Linked DNA regions of Homo sapiens: all the other regions are linked to region 1. The links come from fine-mapping of genetic effects on gene expression. A gene starts in region 1. Each other region holds a variant in brackets. All regions are shown on one strand. Distances are between the middles of the regions.

Region 1 (7,102 bases):
GCCAGGGCACCCCGAAGCCCAGCCTGAGCCAACACAAGCCTGCTCTCCACTTTTCTGACCCTGCCTTCCTTCTTCCTGTCCCCATTCAAGTCAGGTACGCCTTGCCCTCGAGGCTGGAGTCTCAGAACAGCCAAGAAAGCAGCTTTGGCAAGACCATGGCCAAGAGGGGGGCTGCGCCCAAAACAGCCCACGGGGCCCACAGGTGGCACCAGAGGCTTGACTCCAAGAGGCGGCGGTGGCCTCTGACCCAAGGGAGGGTCCCGAGTTCACAGGTCTCGTCACCTCCCACACTTCGAGTGACCTGGTGGCCGTGCAAGCTGCCACCTGTACCCTGGGAGTTTCCTCTGGTGAGGAAGGCGGCAGCCTCCATGGGGTCTCACATGCACCCCACACACACCCCCAAACCCGGGAGGGTGCCCGGCTCTCCAGAAGCAACTCACCTTCAGGTGAGCAACCTTCCAGGTGTCCCACAGCTCTGCAGGGAAAGCGAGGGCAAAGGTCACCTGACCCGCAGGGGAGGCAGACCAAGGCTCAGCCCTGTCCGCCCCTGACTCTCAGCACACTCACCCGCCCGCTTCACATAGAAGCTGGAGACGGTGGGCTCCCGGCGGGGCAGGCTCACGGCAGACAGCAGCGTGAAGGCATTGTTCCAAAAGGCGGGGGGCACCTGCGGAGCCTGGCCTGAGTGCCTGGACGCCGCCCCCCAGTCCCTGCCTCCCTGGGAGGCAACAGCATGATGCTGGCGACAGGACCCCATCACCCACCTCGGGGTGCTGGCCAGTGACCCGGGCCACGGCATCCACGGCTGCCTGCATGGTGTGGTAGCGGGTGTCGTCGTAGTCCAGGTACTCCCGGAACTGGGACAGGAGCAGGCTCTGGTCCTCCTCAGGAGACAGCAGGCCTCCCACCACCAACTAGGGGCAAGGACCAGTGAGCAGCCCTGCCCGGCCCAGCATACGCCAGCAAGGTCCAGGCAGGCAGCCCTGCCCCATCGAGCCCCCCAGGCAGACTCCTCCTGGTTGGGTGGGCCACAGGAGCCACAGGAGTGTCCCAGCCAACAGCCAGGCTCAGCTCAGCAGGCCCCGCCCCCACTACGGGGCCATCCTGGGATCTGGCCAGCCAGCCAGGCCCTCTGGGAGTCCCCAGCAAGGCCCTCACCTTGAAGAGCTCTCGGGGGAACAGGTAGTTGCCTTCCCACTTGGACTTCTCCAGGGGGTGCGCTCCTTCCAGCTGCACGAACTTCAGGAGTGCGCTGAGGGCCAGCTCCTGGGAAGGGGGCAGTGCAGGGTGGCTGTGATGCCCTCACCCCACGGATGGGCCCAGAGCTCAGCCCAGTCAGGGAGCCCCTCCCATCTAGGCCCAGAGCTGAGAAAAGGGCGGCCGGGCCTTCTCTTGCTCCACACGCCACCAGATGCCACTCTGGGCTTCCGTGTCCCACCCATGACGTAGAGATGACAAGATCTCTAGTTAAAGAGATCCAGTGCTCACGACAGAGTCTGGCGGGGGAAGGGTACACAGCCCAGGTCTGCTTTATGGGCCACCTGACTGCTCTCTCGTCACCTGTGTCACGGGAATGCCACCATAACCCTTGGGAACAGCTGTGAAAACACAGGCGTGTGATGCCAGCATGGTGCCCAACTCAGACCCAGGCTTGGAAGCTCTCATCTCGGGGTGGCAAACTCAGTGCTTTCAGGGCCCAGGCAAATGACACCACAAAGCAAAAGAGCCTCGTGCGGGATGACAGGAGCACACGGCTGTCTCAGAGCTGTCTCTGACTCTCCCTCCAGCCAATCGCAGCCATGAACAAACTTAGACCCCGTGTTGACAGAACTGATTATTTCTTTCTGAGAAGGTGGAAACTGGTTATTTTCACGTGGTATCTCCCCAACATTTAAAAGTCTGCAGCTCGGCTATAATTATAGACAGACGTGTTGGCGAGGATGTGGAGTATGGAACTCTCAAATGCTGCCAGGGGGAGGGTAAGATAGCGCAGCTACTATGGAAAACAGTCTTGTAGTTCCTCAGAACATTAAAAACACAGCTGCTGTGTGGCCTTGTAATTCCACTGATAAGGCATATTCAAGCAAAAGAAACATCACACAAGAGTTTGTACGCGAACGTTCACAGTCCGCTGTTCGTAACAGCCAAAGGTGGAAACGACGCAAATGCCCAGCAACCTACGAGCGGCTGAACGATACGTGCTGTGCTATACGACGCGCTGCTACTCAGCCACAAAGAGAACGAACTTCGAACACGCCGATGAGTGGAAGAAGCCACATACCGTATGATCCCCCTTATGAGGAGCGTCTAAAAAAAGCAAACCCATTGATCCAGGAAGTAACCACTGATCCAGGAGTGGCTGCCTGGGGCTGGGGGTGGAAAGGGGCGGGATATGGAAGCGATGGTAACTGGTACAGGATTTCTTTTCGGGGCGATAAAGATGTTCTGGGATAGCGGCAACCACTGCACAACACAGTAACAGATGCTAACTTCTCAGCTTTAAACGGTAAACTGTGCCTCAGTTATTCCTCACTACAGATTTTAAGAAAGCTCATAATGCATTCCCATGGCTGCAGACCACAGTGTGATCTGAGCAAACACATCTGTGGACTGGCACGAGGCTTGGTGTGCGTGCTCTATGCAAACACAGAGATCCCCGTGGATGCCACTGGAAATGAACACGGATTCTGCGTCTTCAATATTCACTACAGGACTCGATAGCCATGTTTCTGAATGGGACTGAACACCCACAGGGTGATGCTCCCATGAAGGAAGCAGCTTTGCCTGGACAATTGTGGGAGCCCCAGACCTCTGCTTTGTGGATAACCTGGGAGTTGGGGTGCAGGGGATGGACAAGGATGAGGCCAGCCCAATGACCCACCTTGACCTGAAAGGAGGGGTGGCCCAGGAGCTCTCCCAAGCGATTGCAGCAGCTGTGATAGCGGTGTCTCATCCACACCTTGTACTTCCGTGTGGCTCCCTGGGACCCTGCAGACAGGTTAGGGTGGTCAGCCCACGTGAGGCCCACATACGCCACCCTGGGCCCAGCCCAAAATCTCAGGCCTGGCTCCACCCTCCCATTGTCTTCTACTCAGCCTCCGCAGGTGGAAACAGGTCGCTAAGGCCCCCAGACCTGTGCTGAGACCAGCACATTCCCTGAGCCCTGCAAACAGGAAGAGCACCTCCTACCCCAGGACTGCCCCAGCCAAGCTGCCAGGAGCAGGATCCACATCCCCTCTCTTTACTCCAAGACCTGACGTCCCCAGGATGGGGACATAAAGGAAGCTCCGAGTTTAAGCGACCGTGTCAGGATCAGTCAACATCAAATTACAAAAGGGGTGCAAAGCACACAAAAAGTCGTACCTTGTCCAGTGTTCATCTACACTCAGCTGCAGGGCACCCATGTCACCCCTGCCCCAACGCCACCATCCATCTTCCACGGTGGGCTTGGTGCGTCCTCCCACCAGCCTGCACGGCCTGTGCCAGGGTTGGGGGCGCTCATCCCATGGTGACAAAGCCTCCCTCCGACCCACGGAAAGAGAAGAGCAGCCCCGGGGCCCTCCAGGGCTCACCTGTCATGACCATCTCCTCAGAGGGCAGCTGGCCCACAAACAGCTCTCCCCGCTCCAGCAAGGCCCCGAAAAGACGGCTGCACGTGCGGACTGCTTCCTGGATCTCCTCCTGGTCCTCAGACTGCAGGAGAGGCGGCGGCAGGGTGCCCGGCCGCCAACTGTCACCTTCGCCCCTGCCTAGGCTGCCCCCAACCCGTTCCCTTCCCCCTCGGGACGCCAGCCCCGTCACCCCCGACCCGTGACCCACACGCCTCCCACCCTGACCCCCCAACGCCGTCTCGGAACCTCCTGGGGACCTGCCGCCGCAGCCCCCCATTCAAGTCCCGCTCCCGTGCCGCGACTCCGGCCCTGCGACGCCGCCAGGCCCACCTGCAGCACGGCCAGGATGTCGAACACGGCGTTGGCCTCACTGCGGCTCGCCAGCACCGCCTCCAGCCGGCGGCCCAGAGCCCGGCGAACTCCCGCGGCGCCCGGCTCCCGCTCCATGCCGCCCCCAACACGGAACAACGCGGATTCTCAGCCGCCGGCGCTCCCGTGACGTCACCACTGCGCGTAGAACCCGACGTCATCTCTACGCGCCGTACCCCAACCCCATCTTTTGCGCGGAGCCCGAGTCGCAGGCGTGCCGCCGACGTCATCGCAGCGCGCCACGCCCGAGTCCCAGGCGTGCGGCTGGCCATGGCGCTGTTCTACGTCGCGCGGTACCCGGGCCCCGATGCGGCAGCTGCGGCGGGGCCGGAGGGCGCGGAGGCCGGGGCGCACGGCAGGGCCCGCGCGCTGCTCGAGCGGCTGCAGAGCCGGGCCCGCGAACGGCAGCAGCAGCGGGAGCCCGCGCAGACCGAGGCGGCTGCATCGACCGAGCCGGCGACCAGGAGGCGACGGCGGCCCCGGCGGCGGCGGCGGGTGAACGACGCGGAGCCGGGGAGCCCGGAGGCGCCGCAGGGAAAGCGACGGAAGGCGGACGGCGAGGACGCGGGCGCAGGTGGGCCGCGGGGCGAGCGGGCTCCCTCTGGGGCGCCGGCGACTCGGTGCTGACGCGCTGCCGGGTGGGTGTCTGCCTCGCAGAAAGCAACGAGGAGGCGCCAGGGGAGCCCAGCGCAGGGAGCAGCGAGGAGGCGCCAGGGGAGCCCAGCGCAGGGAGCAGCGAGGAGGCGCCGGGGGAGCGCAGCACCAGCGCCAGCGCCGAGGCGGCCCCAGATGGACCGGCCCTGGAGGAGGCGGCCGGACCCCTGGTCCCCGGCCTGGTGCTGGGGGGGTTCGGGAAGAGGAAGGCGCCGAAGGTGAGCCTCGGCGGGCGGGAGGGTGGTCGGCGTGAGAGGGTAGGCTGCGCGGATTCTTAAGTGCGGCGGTCGCCCCGGAAGATTTCGTTCAGCGAATGTTCCCGGGTCACAGCCGCGCCTCGCTGCCAGGTCTGCAGTTTCATCGCCTAGGGGTCTGGATCCTGCACGTGCAGAGCTCCCGTTTCCTCTGCTAGGCTTGCCCCTGTCCTCCCGCCGCGCCGCGCCAGTTCTGCAAGATGTGTTTGCGTGAACGTGCGGGGTTTCCTGCTGTGCGCTCACCGCCTCAGGAGTAAGTCAGAGGCCGTTCTGCAAGCTCCTGACCGTTGGTGTTTTTGCTTAGCACGTGTGGTTTTCGGTAAAGAGATTTCCGGCGAGACAGGTGAAGAAAGCGAGAAGTTTGACAGAGTGCTCGGGCACCTTAGGTAGGGCAGGTGGAGGAGGTTCTCTTTGAGTTGGGATGCAAAGACTTGAAGCCAGGTCAAGGTTGGGGGTTGGGGGTGCCAGGCAGAGGCCTCGAGGCAGGGACGCCGGCGTGGCTGGGGCAGGCGAGCGCCAGGTCACAGGACCTCCTGGCTGCGGGAGGGTGGGTGCCACTGTGGGTTGATGGGAGGCTACAGAGTGAGTTTGCTCAGGGAGTGGCATCTGCTTTTACTGTTTAACTTCTGAAGGCTGTATGGAAAGCGCATCCTGGGGCTGAGAAGGAGCTGAAGACGACAGAGGTTTCCCCAGCCTCCCTCCCCTAGCTTTTTCCACCGTGGGCTTCTGCGCGAGAGCCTGGAAAGCGCTCACCTGGCCTCTCTTTCTTTTTGATGGCAGGTCCAGCCTTTCCTGCCAAGGTGGCTGGCTGAGCCTAACTGTGTCAGAAGGAATGTCACCGAAGACCTGGTTCCTATCGAGGACATCCCTGACGTCCATCCTGACCTGCAGAAGCAGCTGCGGGCACACGGCATCTCGTCCTACTTTCCAGGTGCCCCAGCCCCGGGCAGGCAGCTGAGGGAACACCTCCCTGGGCACCCACACACAAGGCTGTGAGTGGCCGTGGGTCAGGCGTCCCTGCCACATCGGTGCCAAGTGTGGTCTCAGCACTCTCAAGCTCATGGTTCCCACTTGGGTCTCCTGAGGCTGGCGTTCCTCTGGGCCTTGGTGCCATCCCTCTGGGGAGCGGTTCCCAGGCCTCCAGCAGAGCAGCCCAGCCCAGAGGTCACAGGCAGGGAAGCGGCAGGCCTAGGCCTAGGCGTAAACACGACTTCTCTCTCGCCTTTCCTCATCCAGTCCAGGCAGCTGTGATTCCTGCCCTCCTGGAGAGCGCAGCCTGTGGGTTTCTGGTGGGCAGAGGTGGCTACCGGCCTAGCGACCTCTGTGTTTCTGCCCCAACAGGCAGTGGGAAGACACTGGCCTTCGTCATCCCTGTGGTGCAGGTCTGTGTGAGGGTCCCCTTTCTCTACAGCGGGTGTGCAGAGGACAGGTAACAGCCTTGCTGACGCAGGCGCTCCTTCCCCCTCAGGCCCTGCTTTCGAGAGTGGTCTGCCACATCCGTGCCCTGGTTGTGCTGCCCACCAAGGAGCTGGCCCAGCAGGTATGTGGACCCTAGACCTGGAGCGTGGCACCGCCCGCCTCAGCTTCCCTGCTGAGTGCACAGCGATCAGCCCCTGGGGGACCCAGATTAGATCTGGGGTCCTTTTTGCTGCAGTAGGTGGACACCAGCTACCTCCAGGCCAGTGACAGACTTCTCCTGCAGGTGAGCAAAGTTTTCAACATCTACACAGATGCCACACCTCTGAGAGTCTCCCTGGTTACGGGACAGAAGTCTCTGGCCAAGGAGCAGGAGAGCCTCGTCCAGAAAACGTAGGTTGTGTCAGGGTGCGGGTTTTTCAGGGGGTCCCTGCTCAGCCCTGCAGGTGGCCTGAGGCACCGTGGGAGCAGAGGAGGGGCCACCATCTTTAACCACCTGTTCCCGTGAAGAGGAGGAGCTCCCACCGGCCCCCTTCCCATGTGGGGTGGAGTCGGGGCTGTGGGGTGAGGCAGCGTCTTGCTATCCGGAAGCCCTTGAGAAAGCTTCCTTCTCTCGAGCTGCTCTCTGGTCTGTAGAGCTGATGGGTACCGCTGCTTGGCTGACATCGTGGTAGCCACCCCCGGCCGCCTGGTGGACCACATCGACCAGACCCCAGGATTCAGCCTCCAGCAGCTCCGCTTCCTGGTAGGTCCCCGCCCCAGGGGCCTGGGCTTTGAGCTCAGGGCCGCGCCACCCAG
Region 2 (5,000 bases), 230 kb after region 1:
GGCTGAACACAGCTCCCAGGGGGTCCGTGGGGGGTTTGGGCAGCTTGGGGCGGACGACGTGCAAGTCAGACAGGTTGGGGGCGCTGTGCAGGCGGCAGCCCAGCCCGGAAGTGCGGGGAGAGTGCTCGGGTGCAGAGGAGCCTAGAGAGAGACACGCCTCGTCACGACCTTCCGGTCCGGCGGCCCAGCCCTAGGCCCCACTGCTACCACACGGAGCCCCTTGGGGTAGACGCACTCCAAGGCCCCACTCTTTTTCTTTTGTTGAGACGGGGTCTCGCCCTGTCATTCAGGCTGGAGTGCGGTGGTATGATCTCGGCTCACTGCAACCTCTGCCTCCCAGGTTCAAGCGGTTCTCCTGCCTCAGCCTCCCGAGTAGCTGAGGCGCCACTCTTAAACCTGACCCTCAGCCAGCACAGAAGACTGGCACAGAGGGGATAAGAAACTTGCCCCAGCCCACACAGCCAGGAGGTGGAGAGGCAGTTGGCTTCTGTTCCACCAGCTTCCTTCCCACTCCTTTTCACTTGGAAAGAGCAAGGGCTTTAGACCAGGATGACAACGTGAGCGAGGGAGGTCAGCCTAGCACCCCCTCCCCCCTCCGGACTGCACCCACCTGGACGAGGGGACCTGCCACCCCGCATCTCAGCTCCCTGTGGGGAGGGCGTCCCGCTCCAGCCTGGCCGCTCAGGGATGGTTCCAACTTGGGGAAAAGAGAGATCTGTCAGGGTCCAGCTGGGACAGAGACAGCCTCCTCACCCACTGCCTACAGACGCCCCTTCCCAGGCCCCAGCCTGCAGGCGCACCTTGAGGAGATGGCGTGTAGGGCCGGCCTCCACCCAGAGACATCTTCCTGGCCAGGACGCCTCCATGCTCAGCGTGGGCAGGGGGCGAGGGGCTGGCCCTTGCAAAGCCCAGGGGGCTGGTGCTGCCTGACCTGCGGATGGCAGAGGACCTGAAGACAAGGCAGATATTAGGAGGGGAGGCCTCAGCAGCCCTGCCTGACCTGTGGACGGCAGAGGACCTGGGGACAAGGCAGGTATTAGGAGGGGAGGCCCCAGCAGCCCAGGACCCCATGCCACGCCAAGTGGCTACAGTGCTGACAGATGGCTCATCCTCTAATGCACTCTGTCCAGGTAACCGGCCACACAGTGGGTGTGTGGGAGGAGTTGGCCCCTTAGCTTTCCTGCCCGGGGTGCCAACCCAAGGCACCCTCACCCTAAAGTCTCCATCCCCTGCCAGACACCCACTGGCCCACACAGCCTTCTGTGAGTTAAAAGAAAGGTACCCTTTCCTCCCACCATTTACTTCTGTCTGTTAAAACTGGCCAAAGTCAATATTGATTTTATAAACTAGAGAGATTTTACTGATCAGAAAACTGTCAAAATAACTCTAGAAACCCAAGACATCAACAAAGTAAATGGTGGTGCTGAGTTACGCAGTGCGCAGCCTGCACAACTGCACATGGATGACGACCCTGTCCCTCTATGGGAGCCGTGGAAGGGCTCCTGCCACACAAGGCCCCAGCCACGCCTGGCTACCTGGGGGCTCCACACTCACCGAGGTGTTTGGAACTGGGTGGGTGACTGCAGGTTTCGCTCAATGCGCTGGTAGTTCTGCACCTGCGTGGGGACTGGGATGGGGACAGAGGCGCCGCACCTGCTGCTGGAGAACGGGCCAGCCCGGCTGTGGTGGAGAGAGGTCAGGATCATGACAGACACTGGGGTCACAAGAGGCTGAGGTCATGGAGCTGGGGCACCAGAAGAAAGCCTAGGCCCAGACTTCCTAGTTAGGGCAGAGGCCACCCTGAGACCCATGCCAGGTCTGAAAAGAGCCGGCTTCCATGCCTCTACACACACCAGAAATGTGGCACCTGCACCCCACCTGGACTCCCAGTCTGCACCCAGCCAGTGGGGGGCCACCCTGGCCGGGGCCCTGGCCATTCCTGGCCCTACAGGCTCGACTGTGCTGGCCCTGGCGTCCCTGGTTGGTTTCCTCATTCACCTACTCCTGTCAATGCTCCTCCCACTATAGTCCCTTCTGCAGGACGACCCAGCAGACCCCATCCTGCGAGGCCTGGGAGAAGAAGGCAGGGGCCTCTGGACACAGCAGGCCTGGGCTGGCTGCGACACACAGGAAGCCCAACCTCCAGCCGGGGGACTGTTCACAGCCCCATCCACCCAGCCTGGGGCCCTGCTTACCCTGAGGGACTGGGGGAGCTGCTGCAGGGTGGGGATGGAGATGGGGTCCGGCCGTGGCTCTCCAAGCCCGCAGAGGCCACCAGTGAGCTCCTGTGGGGCAGAAGGGAGGCCAAGGGCATTTTTTTGTTTTTTTTGGGGCAGTCTCACTCTGTCACCCAGGCTGGAGTGCAGTGGCGCAATCTCGGCTCACTGCAACCTCTGCTTCCTGGGTTCAAGCGATTCTCCTGCCTCAGCCTCCCGAGTAGCTGGGATTACAGGCATGTGCCACCACGCCTGGCTAATTTTTTGCATTTCTTTTTTTTGTCAGTAGAGACGGGGTTTCACCATGTTGGCCAGGATGGTCTCAATCTCCTGACCTTGTGATCCATCCGCCTCGGCCTCCCAAAGTGCTGGGATTACAGGCGTGAGCCACCA[C/T]GGGCCAACGGCATTTACTTTTTTTTTTTTTGAGACAGAGTCTCGCTCTGTCACCCAGGCTGGAGTGCAGTGGCGCGATCTCGGCTCATTGTAAATAACACGGGCCACTTCCAAGGCCACAGTTTCTCTCCCCTAAAATACAGAGGTAAGGGATGGGGGCTCACCCACTGCACATCAGGCTGTCTGGCGGGGGTTTGGCACTGGGCGCCTCAGCCACCAGGTCACCTGCAGGGGGAGACAAGGCTGGGCCTGGAGTCCTTGCCGCCTGCCCAGGGCCACCCCACCCCACCGAGGCTCTCTGCTGGATCCCCACGCACACTCCACCTTGCAGGGGCCTCAGCTCGTACAGCGGCCTTGCGGGGGGCAGAGCCTGGGTGGTACAGTCCAGGCTGCATCCTCCCTGCCAGCCCCAGGCCAGCTCCGGGAGACCAGAGCGCTACCTGCCCCCGCTTATCCCCACTTGGACTCTGCGCCTCCTGTCTCCTCAGCCCCAGAGACCCCTGGGGCCCTGCCCCCCAGCCTTTAGCTAACTCCAGGATGGGCGGGGGAGGTCAGGCATCTACAGCCCTAAGTCTGGGCCCAACCCCCTCCAGGAATACCCAGGTTCCCACCCCCAAGGAGGCTCTGCCCTACCCCTGGTGTCCGTCTTCCTGTTGCCCTGACAGCTGGCAAAGGACCAAGGCCCTCCCCGGGTCTGTCTGGGGCTTGGCTCGGGCCTCACCACCCCCGCAGAAGCCATGCTGATGGGAGAGGCGGAGGGCTCGGCATGAGTCATTGTGTCCCTGGCAGACACGGGGACCAGTGCCAACCCAGACCTCCAGGAGCTTTGGGACAGCCAGGGACAGAGTGCAGGGCCTTCAGAGGAGCCACAGACCCCAGGCCTGCTCCAAAAGTTTAGGCACCTTCATTCAACAAACACGTGGGCAGCCCCTGGCCATTATGGAGCGGGGGGTTCCCCAAAAGCCAAGGAATAAACCCACCTGCAGGGTGTAGAGGCAACAAGAGTTGCTGAGAAACAAGGTAGGGGTACATGGCGGGGGAGGGGCATGAGGTGAGCGGCCCCCACCCATCCGAAGAGCAGCACTGTCTAAGGAGACCAGGCCTATGGCCTCCGACCTCCTACTGACCACTAGGAGGACCCGGCTTTGATTCCAGGAGTGGTTTTAACAGACACGGCCTCCCCAACCAAGCTGGGCCGATGCCGGTGGCTCCCAGGGGCCCATCCTAACTGCCCATAAGTGGAAATGTGTTACACACTGTGCATCCAACACATGCAATGCACTGTCCCCGCCGCACCTGAGGCGTCACCTCCAAGCCCAGCGTGCCCCCTGACCTGGAAACTGCGCGGGGACCATGACGAAGTCGTCTGTGTCACAGGAAGAGTCCTTGCTGCCACCAGAGTCCCGGGAGCTGTGCAGGAAGCCAGCGGTGTCAGCCGGGGAGGCCAGGGTCTTCTGCAGCTGCTGCATCTCGCCCAGGGACTGAGAGTCAACGGAGGGGCTGGTGAGCAGGTCTCAGGGACCTACACACTCAGGGGAGCAAATTCCCCCTCCTGGGATGGCCCAGAGCCCCAGTAAAGATCGGGGCGCTGGGGCTGAGAAGGGCTGGGCACGTCTTTCTTCCTGTGCTCCGCTCTTCTCTGTACTTCCAGAGCACTCCACTCAAAGGCCAGCTTTGACCTCGCAGGGACAGGCCCCCCGACGAGCCACTCTCACCATGCAGCCTGGGTGGGTTGAAGCCCTCAGCTCCCAGAAGCTCTGGGAGGCCCTGTTTTGGGGAGTTGTTCACCACCTGCCCTCTGCACCTCACTTTTCCATCGGCATAGCCAAGAGAACGAGGTACCATGGAAGGCGTGTCCAGTGGAGAGGCTGCCACCCCGGTGGGCCCTGCTCTGAGGCCAGCACCATGCTAAGGCCCAGGGCACACCATCCGTGCGGTGGTGGCTAAAGCCCCAAGTGCCCCAGGGCAGGTCTGCGGATGCCACAGCTCCCTACAGCAGGGCGCTGCCACGCTCCCCTCGCCACATCTGAGCTTTCGGCCATGATACAGGCAGACAACCAAGGTCAGAGGACCGGTCCCTGGTCACAGAGCAGGGGGCCAGGCCAGGAGAGCCCAGACATGAACTCATCACCACCAGCCACAACACCATGCCTGAGAGCCAGGCTCCCAGTCAGATGGACAGAGGGACGGGGGTTCATGGCCGACTCAGGTGCTCTGCAGACCCCTCCCATGTCACACAAGGAGTGCCATCATCATGTGGGGCCATCACCCTGCAACCCTACTCATGCTTTGAGTCCAATGGAAGACACGAGGGAGGCCAGGGGTGCAGGTGTCAGTGGGCCAAGGCCACACGCTGCTTCTGTCCACGTCAGCACAAAACCAAAGACAGGA
Region 3 (5,000 bases), 81 kb after region 1:
CTTAATGAAATTCTTAGTAATGGACATTTAATTTCCTCTAACACTCATGAAGCAAACAAGCTTGTACATTCATCACTTTGTAAATGTTCAGTTATCTCTGCAGGACATAAGGGGGTGTTTAGTTAAATAAGCGTGCACATTTTCATAGCGTAATTACCAAAATCCTCTCCAAAAAGAGGCCACTGATTCCTGTCCAACAAGAACCCGGTACCCTGGCTACCACTAGGTGTTACCACCCTTCTCAGTGAATTTGCATTTTTGTGAACATGAATGAAACCAAGCACCCTTCTGTAGTTTTTTATCCACTTCTACTCACTCTGCTGTGGAGGGCTAGCCCCTCCCAGGGAAGACCCAAAGTGGGGGTCCAGCACCCACACAGCTTAGCCTGAGCACCTGGGTCCCCAAATCCTAGCTTGAGTTGCAGCTGATTGGTTGTGGGATTTGGGTGGGAACTTAGCCTACATGCCTCAGTTTCTTAACCTGTAAAATGGAATTAATAGTAAGACCCTTATCCCTGCCTGGGGCAGTCCATGAGCACTGGGCCAGGTGAAAGACACAAGAGAACGAAGGGCAAAGTCTAGCTCAGGGTGAGCCTCCAACAGGGCAGCTGTCACCAGTACCCCTAGCTGAGCTCTAGTCACGGTGCAGTGACGCTGCCTGCCCCGGGACGCTGGCACCTGCTGAGAGCCAGTCTTCCCAGACAGCACTTGCGCCTGATGCTAGTCCCTTCTGAAATCTCCAAATGCTCTCCCTGCCTACAGCGGTCACCTGAGAGCAGCTTCAGAGACCGCCACCTGCCCATGCCTACGGCTTACATGCACAGCGCCCTCTGCTCCAGCCACACAGGCCTTGGTCCCTGCAGGGTCCCTCAGCAGCACAGGGAAGCCACGCAGGCTGCATCTCACCTCGCTCACTCTCCACCCCCCTCAATTCAAGCCCTGAGAAGCTTGGTGATGCCTGGATGGGCTCTGGGAGCTGCTGCTGTGTTAATGTTCCACGAGTGGTGAGTCCCGTCCTCTGTCCAAGGGGTACTAAGTTCTCGGGGAAAAGAACCCGTCTCACACTCACTCCTGTAACACGTGACACGCACCTGAGCAAGCGCAACAGCTGTGTTAAAACATAAAAAGATGCTGCTTTTGGAAAACAAACAGAAACTGACACTTACGAGCCGGGCCACCTGGAGGTTGGCCACGGTGGTGCCCGTCAGCAGGGCACCAGGCCTTGGGGCCGTGACCGTCGTGAGCTGGGGGCTCTGCTGCTGCGGCGGCTGCGAGGTCTGCACTTGCACTTGGGCTGTTGGCTGCGGGGGCGCAGACTGGGCCTGTGGCGGTGGGGGCTGCGGGGGCATCTGCAGTTTCTGCTTCTGCATTTTGATGAGGTGTTCCTAAAATACAAGCAAAGTATCTTCTCTTCAACATTAACTGTGCTCCATTCTTTAAGTAGACATCTTGTTCCTAAGCCACCCCTCTACTGCCCATTAAATACCAAAGCAGACACCTGCTACCGTGCAGCATCCAGACCGCCTTCCATGGGCTGCCCAGTATCTTCCAGGTGTTCATTTATTAAAAATGTGCATTCGTCGGTGAAAACTACAAACACGGATTCTGACTGATAAGTTCATAGCAAAAAGAATTCTATTATCCTCACAAACAAGTCGATTTAAATCTGTAGCACCAACCAAACTTATTTGAAGTTCAAAAAACATTTTAAGAAAAAATTTTTTAAGAAAACCTATACTGAGTTGATCATGACTATCAAGTCTCTTTTGAAATGCTGGAAGTGAACTGGTTTTGAAATGGATTTGGGAGAGGGCAGAGTGAGGAACGAAGGAGACAGGCAAACAGCTGGCACACAGAGCTCCTGGCAGCCAAGGCTGGGTGGCAGCCTTGATGTTGACGGCACTGGTGTCTCAGTGGTTGAACCGGGGCAGGTGACAAGGCACCTGTGTGGCTGTAGGCCGGGGGGTCATCAGTGGTTGAACCGGGGCAGGTGACAAGGCACCTGTGTGGCTGTGGGCCGGGGGGGGG[T/GT]CATCAGTGGTTGAACCGGGGCAGGTGACAAGGTACCTGTGTGGCTGTGGGCCGGGGGGGTCAAAGCCCGGCTCTGACTCCCTGACAGTTGCCTCTGCTGGGCCTGGGACTCTTGAGCACAGCATTCTAATTCAGCACTGTCCAGTGGCACGTCCCGCAGGATACAAGTGGGCTAGGCGGGGGCTGCCCAGGGTGGTAGCCACAGCCACATATGGCCATGCAGCCCTCGAGGGATGGCTGGTGTGACAGGAACAGGATAAGCTCAATGTCTAAATTCCACCGACAGCCCTCCCGACAGCCCCAGGAGGGGCCCTCAGCTGAGTGTGCGTCTCCTGCAGCCCACTTCCTCCCTTCCAGACCACGGAGAGGCCCAGACTCAAGCACTCCGGCAGGCCCAACAGTGAGCTGAAACTTCAAAATATTGTCTTGTCTTTATTCCGTATGTGTCTCTGGTTACTTTCTATGACAAGTATTAATGATTTTTCATTTATGGTAGGACATAACATTTCCTTTTTTTTTCCTTTGAGACACAGTCTTGTTCTGTTGCCCAGGCTGGAGTGCAGTGGCACAATCTCGGCTCACTGCAACCTCTGCCTTCCAGGTTCAAGCGATTCTTGGGCCTCAGCTGGGATTACAGGCACCCGCCACCACGTCCGGCTAATTTTTGTATTTCTAGTAGAGACGGGGATTTGCCATGTTGACCAGGCTGGTCTCGAACTCCTGACCTTAAATGCTCTGCCCGCCTTGGCCTCCCAAAGTGCTGGGATTATAGGCGTGAGCCACTGTGTCCGGCCCAACATTTCCTTTGAAAATGAATATATTTACATAAAGAACAGCAAAGCTGGTACAGAGGTTAGCAAAAATCAGGTACATCAGTACTCCAATGACCACCTTTGAGAAACAGTACCGCACGTGAACCACATCGAAACAAACCCAGGGTCCATCGCCTGCTCTCCCAACACTGCTGAGGAATATCTTCTCACCAGCACTTTCTCTGGTCCAGAACCACACCAAGCGGGCCTAGAGACTGATGCTGAACACAAGGCACAAGACGCCTAAGCAAGAAGACGCATTTGCACGCTGGGTGTTAATGTCTCCAAAGTGCTCTGAATAAGCTGTAAGACTTCTCTAAGGCATGATCAAAGTGTTATGACATGGGAAATTTTAGACCAATAAAACGAAGCACGCGTCCTACATAAAGGCAGTGCTAGACGTTTGCAAAATACACTCTGGACTGCACCATGCAAGCAGGCACCGTCTCACAGACGCTGGGCTGACTGACCGCAAGACGCACACGTTCATGGTCCTCTGGGAAATGCTCACCGGCGTCAGCTTGCCCACAGCTTTGATCTGTGCTGGGGACTGGGCCTGGCCCTGGATCTGTGGAACTTGCACCTGAGAGGTCGTCGTCGTCTGTTGCTGCTGCTGCTGTTGCTGCTGCTGCTGCTGCTGCTGCTGCTGCTGCTGCTGCTGCTGTTGTTGCTGCTGCTGCTGCTGCTGCCTGAGAAGCTGGAAATGTGCAGGTGTGATGGTTTTTCCAGGGAGCTGAACTCCTGTGGCTATGAAGAGGTTTGCTCATTAGGTCTGGACAGGGATACTCGCCCACCTTCAGATCCTCATTCTCAGACAGCAAGCAGCAGCTGAGCCCTCACACGCGCCAGAGCAGACGTGTGGCAGAGAAAGCTCCCAGCCTGGCTTTACCTTGGGACACTTGGGGCACCAAAGACCGTGCCGGGGTCTGCACTGGGGTCAGGTTGGTAGTGACCACGGCCGAGGCTGTCACAGAAGTGACCGCTCGAACACCCTGAGTCGTTGCCATGGACACCAGGTCAGGGGTCGCCGTGGCTGGGGAGCCGACTGCCCGTGGCGGGGGCTGGGTGTGCACCACCTGGGCGGGAGCAGAGCCTCCCGGCGTCTAGAAAAGGCAAACAGAGGACCTCATCAAATATTTCACACAGCACTCAGGGCTGTTCACACTCAGAGCAGGGAAGACAAGAGCACCCAACTTCAGAGGCGAAACAAGTGAAACACACGCTAGAGTTCAGTCTTTTGAAAACTGCTGATTTCATGTGTAAATTCACAAGCAAGTGCCCTGAGCAATGGTTTCTCCCAGCAGATCACATCACCCACAGAAACACGCTTCAGATGGCGGCACGCCCGTGCACATGCTGGAAAGGCCGTCCTGTCCCTCCCTCTCCGCACAAAGACCTCTTGGTCCCCAGGAACGTAACGACTGTCCTTGAGGCACCCATGCTACCCACAAACACACAGCCCACAGTCCTGGCTCTCTACCACTGTCCCCATCTGTGCTGAAACTACAGCCCTGAGTGTCTCACCATGTGCGTGGGGTCTTGTGGCATCTTACCTTCATCTTGCCTAAAATTCAGAGCATCCTCACTGTGCCCTGCAGTCCACTCTGGCCCGCAGGCAGAAGTGGCAGCCAGAGTGGTCCCCTCACCCTATCCCACCTTGCCTCACCGTCCTTCCTTGTCCCACCATAAACTGGAAGGCAAACGCAATCATGCCACCTCTGCAGTGTCCCTCCAGCTGACCTCTGCCAGCTCCCTTGGTTCCGAAGTGCAGTGTATTTTTAGTTTCTCTTGATCCTTTTATGTCTCATTGCTTACGCATTTGGATGGAAATCTAGCGTGTTACTCCATGTTTTCCATTCCACCCAGCTGCTGTATGTTTCTTTTCATCTCCTTCCTTGCCTCCTCTCAGATGACTCTTTCCTCACCAATGTCCCTGCCACAGTTGGGAGCAACTCGCTCTGCTCTCATTCTTCTGGTGGCTGGTCTGGAATTACCACGGATGCTTGCCAAAGTCTAAATACTCCATGCTTTTCCTAAACAGTAACGAGATCTGTGCACATTTCAGCCCCTCTGCCCCTTCCCCAGCTTGCATGTTATTGTCCTGTGTATTTATTTCCTCTTTCTAACCCCAGTGAGCTCCTGCGTTCATCCATGAGTCTAC
Region 4 (7,970 bases), 62 kb after region 1:
ATTACTAACTGAAATGGAAAAAAAGATGGAGGGTGTTATTACAGCACAAAAGGACTGAAAAGGACTTATTTTTCTGTATTGTTTGAATTCTTATGAGGGTACATTTTGTAACATCAAAAAGCAAATTAAAAATATGGCTCATTCCAAGGTACAAAAAATTACTCTGGCAAATCAAAGTTTTTCAAAGTATCTTCAGACTCAAAGAAGTCAAAAAATAAGCTGGACACAGATAGACACTATTTGTTCCTGTAGCAGCTGGAAACCACAGTGAAAGGGCGTTGGCTTTTCCTCCTTAGAAGGGCCTCAGCACCTGACTTTGGAGAGAGCCCATTCTTTGCCATTTTTCCTCTACATGGTGGTTGTCAATGGACTCTTAGGGGACCAAGAATCACTTTACAACATTCTGTTCTCCTATTCAAAATGGGTCATGCTCCATACTTCTCAGAGTCATCACCCAAAATCATACATTTCAATGCTTTTTCAAACATGTGAATACCACCCAGAAAATTCGTAAGCATGCCATTATCCTCCAGGCCCTTTATTACATGATCACCATCATTAAAGTCCTAACACTTAACCATTTTGTAGTAGTTATGACAACTGTTACCTTAACAGTGAACAGATCAGATGACAACGTATCCATGGCCAGGTGGGACGATGTGGACCCAGGAGGACCTAAAATCATGGCCAAGAGACCTCTGCACCACATGCTGACTCTGTAAGGCCATCTCTCCTTGAGTGCTAGGTATTGTTGAAGGAGGGAGTTTCTACTTGTCTCTACTGTGACTGAACATGAAGTACAGACTTTTATAAGTAATATATATATTTTTTGAGACGGAGTTTCGATCTTGTTGCCCAGGCTGGAGTGCAGTGGTGTGATCTCAGCTTACCACAACCTCCGCCTCCTGGGTTCAAGCGATTCTCCTGCTTCAACCTCCCAAGTAGCTGGGATTACAGGCAAGCACCACCACACCTGGCTGATTTTTTTTGTATTTTTAGTAGAGACGGGTTTCTCCATGTTGGTCAGGCTGGTCTCGAACTCCCGACCTCAGGTGATCTGCCCGCCTCAGCCTCCCAAAGTGCTGGGATTACAGGCATAAGCCACCACACCCAGCATAAATAATAATTTTTAAAAGTGCATTAGTTTAGCAAAAACGTGACAGGGATGTCAGTGAAACACCTTTGTGTTACAACTGTCATTTTGTACACCTTGGACAATTCCATTCAACGAACAATTTAGTTAGTTTTGAAGTCTCAATAACATAGTCAGAAAAGAAACTGCTGTAATCTCCCCTTATCCATGGATTCAGTAACCCTCGGTGAACTGCAGTTCAAAAACATGTGCGTACAATACAGTAAGATATTTTAGGAGAGAGACATCACTTTCACATGACTTTTATTACAGTATATTGTTACGACTGTTCTATTTTATTATTAGCTGTTATTAATCTCTTCCTGTGCCTAGTTTATGAATTAAACTTTATCGTAGATATGGAAGGATGCATAACAAAACAGTGTATATAGTGTTCACTACTATCCTTGATTTCAGGCATCCATTGAGGGTGTTGGACCGTATCCCCTGAAGATAAGGTGGGGCGACTGCACGTGGATTGAGAGGTGCCCTCACTGCTGCAGAGCTGTGGTAACAACACTCACTTGTGGTTCCCAGACAAGACTCTATCTGGTCGTGAGCCCCCAACAGCCAGTGGTACTGCTGTCCAATCTGACAGATGGAAACCAGCGCCAATCAGCCTGCCTGGAGCGGCACAAATAAGCCTAAGACTCAAACTTTCAGCCAGTTAACTGTAAGTAAACCAACTTTTTGGTAAGGAGGAAATACTCACCCAGCTCTTGGGCAAGATAAGTGTCTTTATTATAAAAGGCGTCAATTCGCAGCGTCTTTACTGTAAAGGTGGTGGTATTATTAGATTCTTCCTTTCCACTAACACAAAACTCCCAGTGCCGGAAGGCCCTTGTCAGGAGCAGGACCCGCGGAGGGGTCCGTGGTCAGTTCTGGGACAGCTGCCGAGCAGCGCAGCGCGTGGAATCAACTTCACTGCTCACGTGCAGCGCACACTAAGCGCACTCGTCTTTCCTGGAGTGCAGACCAGGCCCCGACCTCAGGGATCAGGACAGCGGGGCCAAGGGGTCAAGAGGCAGAGGCGGCGTCAGCGCCGTAGACAGCGGTCTCGCGAGGCTGGAACCAGGCGGGCGGCAGTGACGGGGGTGGGCACCAGGGGACTGGGTGAAGGGTCATGAGGGGAGGGGCGGTTACCGGGCCAGACGGTCACAGGGATCGTGTCACCGGGGAAGGGCTGGGAGGTCGGGGGTTTGTGTCACGGGATGGGGGGGAGCGGTCACCAGAAAACGGGGTGATGCGGGAGAGGGGGCGGAGGAGGGAAGGCGGGAAAACGGCAGTTGCCAGGTGGCGGGGGGAGGGGTCGCAGGGGGAGGGGTGGGCGCTCACGGGCGCAGGGTCACCGAGGGATGGGTGGGCGTTTGCGGGGGGTCATGTCACGGGGGAGTGTTCACTGAGGGAGGTGGGCGTTCACGGGGGATCGTGTCACGGGGAGGGGGTCCCTGAGGGAGGGGTGGGCGTTCGCTCAGCCGGGGTCACCGGGTGATGGGACGGAGAGAGGGGAGCGCGCGGCCGGGGAGCCTCGAGGGTAACCGGCGGATGTGGGCGGTCGGGGGCCGAGGGTAGGGCCAACCCCTCACGCCCGCCACAGCCCCGGCAGCGGATACGCGGGCCGTCACTCACCGCGGCTGCCGGGCGACGCAGCCAAGGGCTCCCGGCGCGGATGAGCGCTGCGACAGCGGACCGGGCGGCGAGGCCACTACAACCGACCAAACCGACCGGCCGACGCGGAGCCAGTGCGCAAGCGCGGGAGCCGGCCCGGCACTGCGCAGGCGAGGCTCGGACCAATCAGCGCCCAGCGGACCCGGAGGGACGTGGCGGAGGGGGCGGGGCGGAGGGGGCGGGGCGGATAGGGCCGGGCCTCGGTCCGCGCCGGCGCGCGCCTCTGGCTCCGCCCGGAACTAGTTTGTTCATTCATTCGCACGTGGGCACTGAGTTGTATTTGCCCGCCCTCCCGCCGGACACCTGCTGAGCGCTGGTCACACTGACAAGCACAGCTAGCGGCTCCCCTCGCGGGCCCTACAGTCTAGGCGGGGAGGATAGATAAACATGCAGTTAGAAGAGCACCAGGCAAAGCAGCCGGGATGGGGCAGGCTGAGGTCTGTTTTAAATTGGGCAGGGGAGTCGGGGTGCCTAGGGAGATGAGATGTTACGTGGGATCCGAAGATCCACAAGACTCTTGCCTGTGACCACTGAAATGGTGGGACATGTCCCTGGTTTCGTCGTGTCCACTGTAGACGGGTGAGCTTTGGAGCTGTGCATCAGGCGCCTTCCACTGCATAACCTGCCCATCTATTTAAGAGTGAAACCCGTATCACTTACCACCTGTCCATTTCTTCATGGTACTTATCCCCTGAATTATTTTATCTGACCTGCTAGGATGCAACCCCCTTTTTTATTTTGCTGGCAAGTATAGCCTAGTTGTCTAAACTGCCACATAGTATGTACTTTATAAACAGCTGAATAAACCAGTAATTCATCCATCTCTCTGATCAGCTTTTTTTTTTTTTTTTTTTTTTTTTTTGAGACGGAGTCTCGCTCTGTCGCCCAGGCTGGAGTGCAGTGGCGCGATCTCGGCTCACTGCAAGCTCCGCCTCCCGGGTTCACGCCATTCTCCTGCCTCGGCCTCCCCAGTAGCTGGGACTACAGG[C/T]GCCCGTCACCACGCCCGGCTAATTTTTTGTATTTTTAGTAGAGACGGGGTTTCACGGTGTTAGCCAGGATGGTCTCGATCTCCAGATCTCGTGATCCGCTCGCTTCGGCCTTCCAAAGTGCTGGGATTACAAGTGTGAGCCACCGTGCCCGGCCAGCTTTGATTTTCTTAAACAGCCAAGTGTTGTCCTTCCGCCACTCCAGCACTAGTGGTAAAGTTGGCATGAAATATGCTACATTAAATATTCATTGAATAGGGATAAAACAGAGCCACACTACAGCTGGAGAAATAAGACAAATACTGTTGTTCAGCCCAAGATACTACTGGAGGAGAACACTGGGGAGAAATGAATAAATGAATGAATGAATGGATGCACACTTAGTTAAGTGGGAGTAGTCTTCAAAGTAGGAGAAATACTTTACAACAAAGGAGACGAGCACAAAGTCAGGGAGACAGGAAAGGCTGCACAGGGGGCAGAACGATGCTGCTCTGGGGGCTGGTCGGAGTGTAGGTGGCTACACAAGATCAGGCAGGAGGTCGGAAATAAAGGTTCCCGAGTAGGGGACCATGTGACAAAAAAGCTGATAGGGCCTTATTTTAAAAATTAATTCATGGCCGGGTGCGGTGGCTCACACCTGTAATCCCAGCAATCTGGGAGGCCGAGGCGGGCGGATCACTTGAGCCCAGGAGTTCGAGAACAGCCTGGCCAACATGGTGAAAGCCCATCTCTACTAAAAATACAAAAATTAGCCAGGCATGGTGGTGCGCGCCTGTAATCCCAGCTACTTGGGAGGCTGAGGCAGGAGAATCGCTTGAACCTAGGAGGCAGAGGTTGCAGTGAGCTGAGATCACGCCACTGCACTCCAGCCTGGGCGACAGAGTGAGTGAGACTGTCCCCACCCCCACCCCGCCCCCACCACACAAAAATTCATGCACTTGGCAAACTACCTGAACAGTTAAAAGGACGCGCATAACAGTGCAGATCAGCAGCCTTGATCCTTGCCCCCCAGTCTCTCCCTCCACAGAGGCAGTGCTAACACAACGTACAATCGTCCCTCAGCACCTCCCATGGATGCCAAACTCCGAGAGGCTCAAGCCCCTGATGCAAAATGCATATAACTCAAAAACATCTTTTTAAAATCATCTCTGGGTTACTTACAATAGTGAATGCAATGTAAATGTCATGTAAATAGTTGTTATGCAGCATTGTTTAGGAAATAATAACCCCCCCAAAACAAGGTCTGTATATGTTCAGTATAGACACATTTTTGTTTCTGAATATTTTTGCTCCTTGGTCGGTTGAACTCATGGACGTAGAATCCACCACATGCAGGGGCAAATACTTCCAGGATATTCTATGCACATCCAGGCATACAACCAGTTCCATCCTGGTAGCATACTTCACAAACTCATCCCCCAGCACAGCTGTACTTTGTAGAGGCTGCACTGCATTCCACCGAATGTATATAGCATAATCTACCCAATAAAATGGGAACTTTAGAAAAATTAGGGGAATAGATGCTGCAGCAACAGCATAGCAGGGCACCCTATGGCAAAGGAATCTCCCCTCCCATTGCCCTGGATCACAATGCCCAACTCTGGGGTGTTGGTGGGCAGCTGTCACACGATCTGACATCTCGAGTAGGAGGTGACACAACACACTCCGGGCTCAGAAGCTACCTTAAGGTCTTGACGGCTGTGCGCAGGCACAATTGCTTCACCCACTGGCCCCTGGTCGCTACTGGACAGCAAACAGAAACACAGCTTCCAGGCCAGATAAGCCCGCCATAGGGCCTGCTGCCACAGGCACACTTGGCAAAGACGTGATGGTAGGGTCAGGATGACAGAAACAGTAGGCTTTGCAAAACCTGCAGTCCTCTTCGTTGGGAGTATAAAAGACAGACACCAAGTGCAGCACCCAACATTGGACTGGATCCTCAAGCCACCTTAGGAGAGGGGACATGGGGACACAGAGGCCCTGAAGGAGGAAGTCACCTGCCCCTGGTTATGTGGCTGGTAGGCATGGAGCCGCAGGTGCACCAGGCACTGCAGTACAGACCCCCAGAGGCCAGGGAGCACCAGCCGGGCTTTGCAGCTGGCTTTCTCGCCCACCCTGGTATCTGCACTATCACCTGCAGACACGAAGTGTGCAACCAGACCCTGGGAGCTTTCAATCTGGAAGACCGGAGGTGGAAGCCCAAAGCTGCAGGGCCAAGTGCCCGTGCACCCCCGTTTTTGTGGTGGGAGAAAAGATACAGAAACTAAGGGGCTTCTGGGATGCTTCTTTACTTTGCGTAATGTGTGCGTTTTCAATTAAAAGTGTACGTTGATTTTTGTAATCAGATTTAAAACGAAACGAAGAAAAGTCTAAAAGCAGAAGAAAAAGAGAAGCAACAACTCGCAGGCCATCTGCTCACAGGCGTTTTCGGTGGTGAGCACCTGTGAGCCGGTGTCCCTGCCCTTACTTGGGCACACAGACTGGGTGTGGAAGGACACTGGTGCCAGTTGGGCACACAGACTGGGTGTGGAAGGACACTGGTGCCAGTTGGGCACACAGACTGGGTGTGGAAGGACACTGGTGCCAGTTGGGCACACAGACTGGGTGTGGAAGGACACTGGTGCCAGTGTGGCCCCCAGGACATTGACGACGGGTGCTGTGAGGGTGGCAGGCCACATGGGGCAGGGCGGTGCCAGCTCTTTCCTCCACGTGCGGCTTTGGGAAGCGGCTGCCTGGTGGACTTGGTGAATGTGATTTCTGTTCCTTCCAGGTCCTTCTATGGCCACGGAAGAGTGGGTGAGGGGAACACCTCTGGCTCCAACATTACTTGTTGGTTTTTTCTTCACACAAATGAAAAATTCAGCATCTCATTTAACTTAAATACCAGTTTTCTATGAAAGACAAAATGAAAAAATATATAAAAAGGTCACTTTATTTTGCCTTTTGTTTGGTATGCTATCAATGCCCTTTAAAATCCTACTATTCAAGTACAAATGCTGATGTTTACAAAGTATTTACAATTTTAGTCTTGTTCCTTTCTATCTTAAAACACAACAGCTAACTGGTTACAACAGTTAACAAAATAATAATAATAAAGGTCACAAAAAGAGAAACCCCTGTCTTATCAGGCACCAAATCTGAACAAGGGCTTGGATCCAACCTTCTGCTTCCCGCCAGGTGCTTTAAAAACAGTCTGGCTAACTGTTTTTATCATCAGAATAAACGTCTTTCTTTAAAGAATAGCAGGGCAACTGTTTCCCAGGGTCGCCAATTAGAGTCTGACAGTGTTCGGGCTGCTGCCTTTATAGTCTGTGTTCTCAAAGTTTCCAACTCTTACTTGCCGTATTGGAATGAACCCAGATTCACAAGGGGAAGGCCTAGACAACAGCTTCCTGAACGCGTACTTAATTCTTAGGTTAGAAACTTTAACCTTTAAAAGGGAAGGCCAAGAAAATAACACACTAAAAGGAGAGTTTTTACGTACACGACTAAATGAATTTAACTCAGGTCAACGGTAGCATCTAGAAGTTACTAAATTGAGTGCTACGAGTAAAAATATGTCCGTGTTTTGTATTAGGGAACAGCCAAAGGAAACACACTTGAGAGACAGGAGACCCTCACTGACGTGAGATCGGGGCGGAAACTCCACATTGCAAATATTCAGAATCCCATTAAGCTCTCCAAAAAAGCATTTGAGAGATGGTGTTAAATTCTCTTGTAGTGTTTTAGATTAATAGAGCGCTTTTACTTAGACAGTTATGTCTAGGATATTCTAAAATAAGTGCACTCAACATTTTATCTTCAACTATAAGGAGACTACCAAGATTTGGGAAAGACAAAAAAAATGAACAGGGCACACAAATTAAAACAAATGACAAAGGCAGAATTCCTAGATACTTCAGTTCTATCACATCTGCGGATGAGGAGGAGTAAAAGTTTCCACTGGGAGCCAGATGTGAGGCGCACACAGCGGCCCTCCCTCCGGCAAGCTGCGCTCTCACGGCACGTGCCAAGCCAGGGAGAACGGGTTGGTTAGAACAAACAGATTCCAGTCCTCTGCTTTGGTATGTTCAACTAACTAAAAGATTAATTTCTTCTGTTTCTTCAAAGCTTGGTTTTTACTTTTCTCCACATTTCTTATCAAGAGCTCAAGTGAGCTCCCCAGTTGATTTCACTGACTCCTG

Evidence for each region. PIP is the estimated chance that this variant, and not a neighbour inherited with it, causes the effect.
Region 2: its variant is fine-mapped to the expression of NOC4L in visceral fat (GTEx, PIP 0.96).
Region 3: its variant is fine-mapped to the expression of NOC4L in CD4 T cells (BLUEPRINT, PIP 0.91).
Region 4: its variant is fine-mapped to the expression of NOC4L in whole blood (TOPMed, PIP above 0.99). The same link has a PIP of 0.9 or more in aorta, blood mononuclear cells, cerebellum, cerebral cortex, esophagus mucosa and esophagus muscle.

Annotation. Positions count from the first base shown.
Region 1 is chr12:132,141,445-132,148,546 of GRCh38, reverse strand. NOC4L (nucleolar complex associated 4 homolog) reads right to left here and starts at 4,090. Exons shown (of 15, transcript NM_024078.3): 1 at 3,942-4,090; 2 at 3,573-3,693; 3 at 2,882-2,988; 4 at 1,159-1,266; 5 at 765-914; 6 at 568-667; 7 at 441-475. The coding sequence starts at 4,058. DDX51 (DEAD-box helicase 51) reads left to right here and starts at 4,228. Exons shown (of 15, transcript NM_175066.4): 1 at 4,228-4,554; 2 at 4,638-4,852; 3 at 5,669-5,819; 4 at 6,125-6,270; 5 at 6,357-6,428; 6 at 6,591-6,697; 7 at 6,941-7,049. The coding sequence starts at 4,251. RefSeq lists enhancers at 4,008-4,307, 5,237-6,142 and silencers at 4,318-4,367, 4,438-4,637.
Region 2 is chr12:131,911,032-131,916,031 of GRCh38, reverse strand. It overlaps ULK1 (unc-51 like autophagy activating kinase 1), which reads right to left. Exons shown (of 28, transcript NM_003565.4): 13 at 3,943-4,090; 14 at 2,774-2,834; 15 at 2,196-2,285; 16 at 1,555-1,680; 17 at 801-949; 18 at 611-697; 19 at 1-141. Among named protein-coding and RNA genes, the nearest start is that of PUS1-AS1, 15 kb to the left of the region's middle. RefSeq lists a cis regulatory region at 157 and an enhancer at 73-242. The variant C/T (reference allele first, on the strand shown) is at 2,610.
Region 3 is chr12:132,061,052-132,066,051 of GRCh38, reverse strand. It overlaps EP400 (E1A binding protein p400), which reads right to left. Exons shown (of 53, transcript NM_015409.5): 46 at 3,729-3,942; 47 at 3,351-3,586; 48 at 1,166-1,384. Among named protein-coding and RNA genes, the nearest start is that of SNORA49, 32 kb to the right of the region's middle. The variant T/GT (reference allele first, on the strand shown) is at 2,028.
Region 4 is chr12:132,079,191-132,087,160 of GRCh38, reverse strand. EP400 (E1A binding protein p400) reads right to left here. Exons shown (of 53, transcript NM_015409.5): 53 at 6,701-7,970. It also overlaps the pseudogene EP400P1. Among named protein-coding and RNA genes, the nearest start is that of SNORA49, 52 kb to the right of the region's middle. RefSeq lists silencers at 547-723, 2,568-3,017, 3,038-3,117 and enhancers at 1,908-1,957, 1,499-2,359, 3,776-4,277. The variant C/T (reference allele first, on the strand shown) is at 3,789.